Linked DNA regions of Homo sapiens: region 2 is linked to region 1. Evidence: fine-mapped expression QTL. Tissue or cell type: whole blood. Region 1 holds a variant in brackets; the other region holds the start of a gene. All regions are shown on one strand. Distances are from middle to middle.

The links. PIP is the estimated chance that this variant, and not a neighbour inherited with it, causes the effect.
Region 2: FLT4 starts here. The variant in region 1 is fine-mapped to the expression of FLT4 in whole blood (TOPMed, PIP above 0.99).

What each region holds. Positions count from the first base shown.
Region 1 is chr5:180,669,610-180,672,293 of GRCh38, reverse strand. It overlaps the pseudogene LOC100420514. Among named protein-coding and RNA genes, the nearest start is that of LINC02222, 13 kb to the left of the region's middle. The variant G/A (reference allele first, on the strand shown) is at 1,554.
Region 2 is chr5:180,648,051-180,650,734 of GRCh38, reverse strand. It overlaps FLT4 (fms related receptor tyrosine kinase 4), which reads left to right and starts at 1,135. Exons shown (of 30, transcript NM_182925.5): 1 at 1,135-1,247. The coding sequence starts at 1,190.

The DNA.
Region 1 (2,684 bases):
AGTGAGGAGGCACCACGGTGTTCTCAGGGCCAGGGAGAACCAGCCTCCACGTGGGCCCAGAGTACAGAGGAGCTGACCCGGGGGGTGGGGGTGGCATGAGCACCTATACCCGGGCCCAGGATCACCAGAGCCTTACCCCAGTCAGCAGGTGCCGAGTTCAGAGCCGCCACGGCCAGTACGGGAGCTGACACCCAAGGCACCTGGCTCCCTGCCGGGGTCAGCAGGAGCCAAGCAAGCTGCCTCTCCGCTGGGGAGAGGTAACAGGCGGCCATGAGGCAAAGAAATGAAAACATTCTTCAGCTCAGGCTCCAGTATCCAAGAAGTCGAAGGAGGAGGAGGAGGAGTTTCCTGTAATCCAGACGGGAGGCCCAAATTGGGATGGGTGTGGAAGGACCAAAATCTGACTTTTATAACATTTCCATTCGCCCAAAAAGAAAACTCAATGCCCGTTTGCACAGTCAGTCCTCATTCTCACCCACAGGCCCTGGTAACAACAAATGTACTGTCTGTCTCTATAAATTTGTCTTTTCTGGACATTTCTTACAAGTGGACTCTTACAGGCTGGGCGCGGTGGCTCACACCTGTAATCCCAGCACTTTGAGAGGCCTAAGCGGGACGATTGTTTGAGCCCGGGAGTTTGAGACCAACCTGGACATCATAGCAAGAACCCTGTCTATACAAAAACATAAAATAAACAAATTAGTCAGGCATGCTGGTGCACACCTGTAGTCCCAGCTTCCAGGGAGATTGAAGTGGGAGGAAGTTGAGCCGGGGAGGTCGAGGCTGCAGTGAGGCATGATTGTGCCACTACACTCCAGACTGGGCGACAGAGCAAAACTCTGTCTCTAAAAACAAACAAAAAACATAGTACATTCCTTGGAGGGAAGCCAATAGATTGTACAGGAGCAAGAACCTCTTTCTCATTCACCCCTCTATCCTGAGTGCCTGCCATATAGGAGCAAGATAAATAACTACAGAATGAATAAGTAAATAAGTACATGCACGCAGCACTCCACAGAGAGGCTGGCTCGCAGTCAGCATCCGTCCAGCACAACCACCATGACTGGAGCTGCCACCTGCTCTGAAGAGAGGTTCTCTTCTCTGGTACAAGCATCCCACCACAGGTGGGAAAGAAGAAGACTGGCCCTCTAGCCACACCGAGGTCGGCACGGCTTTTCCTGTAACTACGCTCTAATTTCTCCTGGTGTGCTCTTATTTTCTATATGTGTAAATTATGTGAATTTAAAATTGCATGCTAAAGCCGCTCATAAGGCCTCACTTTGTGCACAATTTTTGAAGATAATATGTCTCACTTCAAATTTTTTTAAAAAAATTATTTGGAGGAGTGATCTTAAAGATGACAGGTCTTAGGCGTATAGACACGTGAATTTAAAATTGCATGCTAAAAACCGCTCATAAGGCCTCACTTTGTGCACAATTTTTGAAGATAATGTGTCTCACTTCAAATTTTTTTTTTAAATTACTAGGAGTGATCTTAAAGATGACAGGTCTCAGACGTGTGGACACATGGCACAACATGGCCACACGGTGTC[G/A]CCATGGAAGCAGTCAGCAAATTGTTGGCACCGTTCCTTCCTCAGTATCTTCAATCCTGGCAGCTGTGTCCCAGCACCTCACTTCTGCAAGTGCTTTCCGTGGGCACACTGCTTTTTGGCGCTTATCACAGTGAGAGATGGGCATGCTTTAAGTAGCAGCGCCAGTGCCAGAGCTGAGAAACTCAAACAAGTCAATGTCTGAGAATCTGTGAGGTAGAAGACACAAGGTCGTGGAGAAAATGAAAGACGGTCTTCAAGTGGAAAGGTATGACACACACACACACACACACATACACACACACATACACATACACACATATACATACACACACACATACATACACACACACACATACACATACACACATACACATACACACATACACACACATACACACATACACATACACACATACACATACACACATACACATACACACACATACACATACACACACATACACATAGACACATACACACATACACACACATACACATAGACACACACATACACACACATACAATACACATACACACACACATACACGCACACACACACCCCCCTAAGTGAAAGGTTAGTTTTGATAAATGTACATATAGAATTGTGTAGGTTCTTCAGAAACACATTGCTTCAAATAAAATGGAACCATCTTGAACCTTTGGCGCATGGTATCTGACTCTGTCCCCAGAGCCAGGAAGAAGGACTCAAACCTTGTTTCCCACAGAGCCCTGGATGGTTGAGGATGGGCTCCTATCCCCAGGGGGGCCAATTTCAGGAGGAAGGAAGTCAGTCACAGGCGTGCCCTGAGTTGTGGGGATGGAATGAGGTTGGGCCGTGGGGTGCTGTCTGAGTCTTCCTCTTCCTTCATTCAGAGGGGCACCCTGAGCCCGGGCCAGCAGCTGCCCTGACCACAGGGCAGATGGCTCAACTGGCAGGCCCCCAGATTCATTCCTTGTAGCCTGCCTGCCTCCCTTCCTCCCTTCCTTTCTGCTTTCTCTCTTCTTTCTCACTGGAAGGGATTACACTGCCCCTCTAGTTCTGTCACTTGCCTTTTTCACCCAACGATAGCTCGTGGCCATCTCCCCACCTCAGTACCCAAAAACCAACCAAATTTGCTCCACGGCCATCTG
Region 2 (2,684 bases), 22 kb after region 1:
ACTTCATGTATCGCTTGGTTACCTAGTTTCCCCAACCTTATTTGTTAAATTATCTACACTATCCGCACTGATTTGTGATTCCAGCTTAATAATATAGCCACTTCTTACCTGGATTGGAGAGAGCTGGTAGTGGTTATTGAAAATCTACTCTTGCTTTTTGGCGAGGATGAAAGGGCTTTGGGGGGCGGGGGTGGGGGGATGGAAAATGTGAATGAAACGAAAAGCAGGGAAGGAGGTTGAGACAGTCATGGTCATGGGCTTCATTATTAAACAGGAAAATTCTAGAGACAAACTGAAAAGAGAACGGAAGTCTGTAAGAGGGTTGCCAAGTCAGAAAGCAAAAGCAAAGTGTCGCTTTATTAAAAAGGTGGGGGCGGGTCCTGATTGAGCTGAGAACAAAACATCTGGGGGAGTTCTAAAGCTAGGAGGCCAGGCCTGCAGGGAGGGGGTCGGTCATCCCGGGTGTCCCGCTCACGGGTGCGGCTTCCGTCGACACTGTCCGTCGACACTGTGCAGGTAAACACTGCTGAACGGGTTTTGTTTTTGCTTTTTTTTTTTTTTTTTTGGCTCCCAGACTGGAGTGCAGTGGCGCGATCTCGGCTCACTGCAACCTCCTTCTCCCGGGTTCAAGCGATTCTCCTGCCTCAGCCCCCCCGAGAAGCTGGGATTACAGGCGCGCACAACCAAGCTCGGCGTATTATTTTATTTATTTGCTTGTTTATTTTTGAGACTGGGTCTCCCTATGTTACGCCGGCTGGTGCCACTATTTTCAAAGATGTAACATACTATTTTTACAAGGATTGCTTTCTTGTTTAGTCTAGATTTTACCGATGGAAAGAAAGGACGGAAAAGAGCGCGTGCCGCATTTTGCTCCCCTTTGCCCACCAGGCTCCATCACCTCCGGAGCGCATCGCGAGACCGTCTGCGTTACCCGCGTCCCCGCGCCCGGAGCCGCCCAGGAGGGGGCCCGGACCCTGTGGTGCGGAGCGCGCACTGCTCGGGTGCACCGGACGCCCCGCGGCGGGCTGGGAGGGACGGGGGGAGGGGGGCGCGGGGAGCGGCCTGAATCCCGGGCCCGCCTCCGGCCCCCGCCCCGCCCCGCCCCGCCCCAGGCCAGCCGGCGCCCGCGCGGACACTTTCAGCCCCGAGCCGCGGCCGCTCGGGTCGGACCCACGCGCAGCGGCCGGAGATGCAGCGGGGCGCCGCGCTGTGCCTGCGACTGTGGCTCTGCCTGGGACTCCTGGACGGTGAGCGCGGCGAACGGGCCACCCGCCCGAGCGTGGGGCTGGCCGGGGAGGGGGTACCGCGCACCTGGGGCGGGCGCTGAGACCGCTCCGCCGGGTACGGGCGGGGGACACGGTGGCCCTGGTGCGCGGACGCCTGAGGGGAGCACGGCGCTTGGGGCGCGGGACCTCGGGATGAGGAAGGGGCGGGCGGGGACCGCAGCCGGGTCAGGGCCAGGGCGGCCGGGCCGCGCCTCGGCGCAGGGGTAGCTCTCCCGGCCCCTGAATCCGCGTCTCCGTCGGTGGCTCCGCGTCCTCGGAGCCGGGCCCTGCCGGGCTGCGCGCTGAGCCCGGATCCTTCGCGCCCTTACTCGCTTCCCCGCGGGGTCCCCGCGCCGCGCCGTCCCGACCCACGCGCGCCGGAGATCCATCCCGGCCGGGCCCCGGACTTGGGTGCGCACTTCCCGACGCCCAGCGCCTCCGCTCGCGGTCGGTCCCCCAGAGGGCGCTCGAGGCGGGCTTCCCCCTCCCCGTGGCCGGCGACGGCGGGGACAGGGGCCGGGGACCACCGCGCGCCCGAGGCGGACGGGTGCAGGTGCACGCTGGCACTTGAGACGAATCTTGAGGAGGCGAATCGCGGGCTGTCAGCGCCGCAGAAGGGGCGGAAGGCCAGGGGTCCCCGGATTTGAGGGGACAGGGGCCTCGAAGGCCAGCTGAGGAGCAGAGGCCCCCGCGGGAGGGTCCCCTGCACAGGAGAGGCGGGGTTCGGTTTGTGTTGGGATGTGGCTCTGGCGGGGAGAGACGCAGACCTGAAGCGGAGGCGGAGGGGTTGGAAAGAGGGACTGTGGGGGATGAGCGGGCGGCAGAGGGAGTGGATGGAGATGTCAGGGAGGAAGCTGAGAAGATGAGCTGGGAGTCCCCACGGAGCTGGTGTCCCTGGAAATCAAAGGGTGTAAGGGCGGGGTCAGGGGTTCCAGTGTCTGAAGCCCTGAAGTCAGCGACGGGGACCTCAACATTTCTGCACGCCATAGGAATTAAATACTGGCTTTACATGCTTGTAATTCTCACAGGGAGTGTCAGACCCATTTTACACATGGAGAAGCTTAGACCAAGGACATGTGTCACTTCCCCAAGGTCCCCAGGAGGCCCAAAGTAAGCCTGACAAAGCCTGCCTTTGCTCACCACCTGTATGTCCACTGGCTGAAGGGCAGAGGACAGGAGAGGGGGCAGGTCTGGCTCAACCAGGGGAGGAGGGAGGAGAACATCTATCTGGGCCTCCGAGTCGGGCAGGCCAGATCAGGGCGCTGCCCTTGGCCCTCCTGGACCCAGCCCAGGACCAGGCTCCCACAGGTGCTCAGGATGTATTTGTCGAGTGGCTGGTAGACCTTGGTTGGACTGCAGGGCTGTAGAATGGGAGACGCTTATCCTGGAGGAGACATGGGACAGGCACCTGGGCGCAGT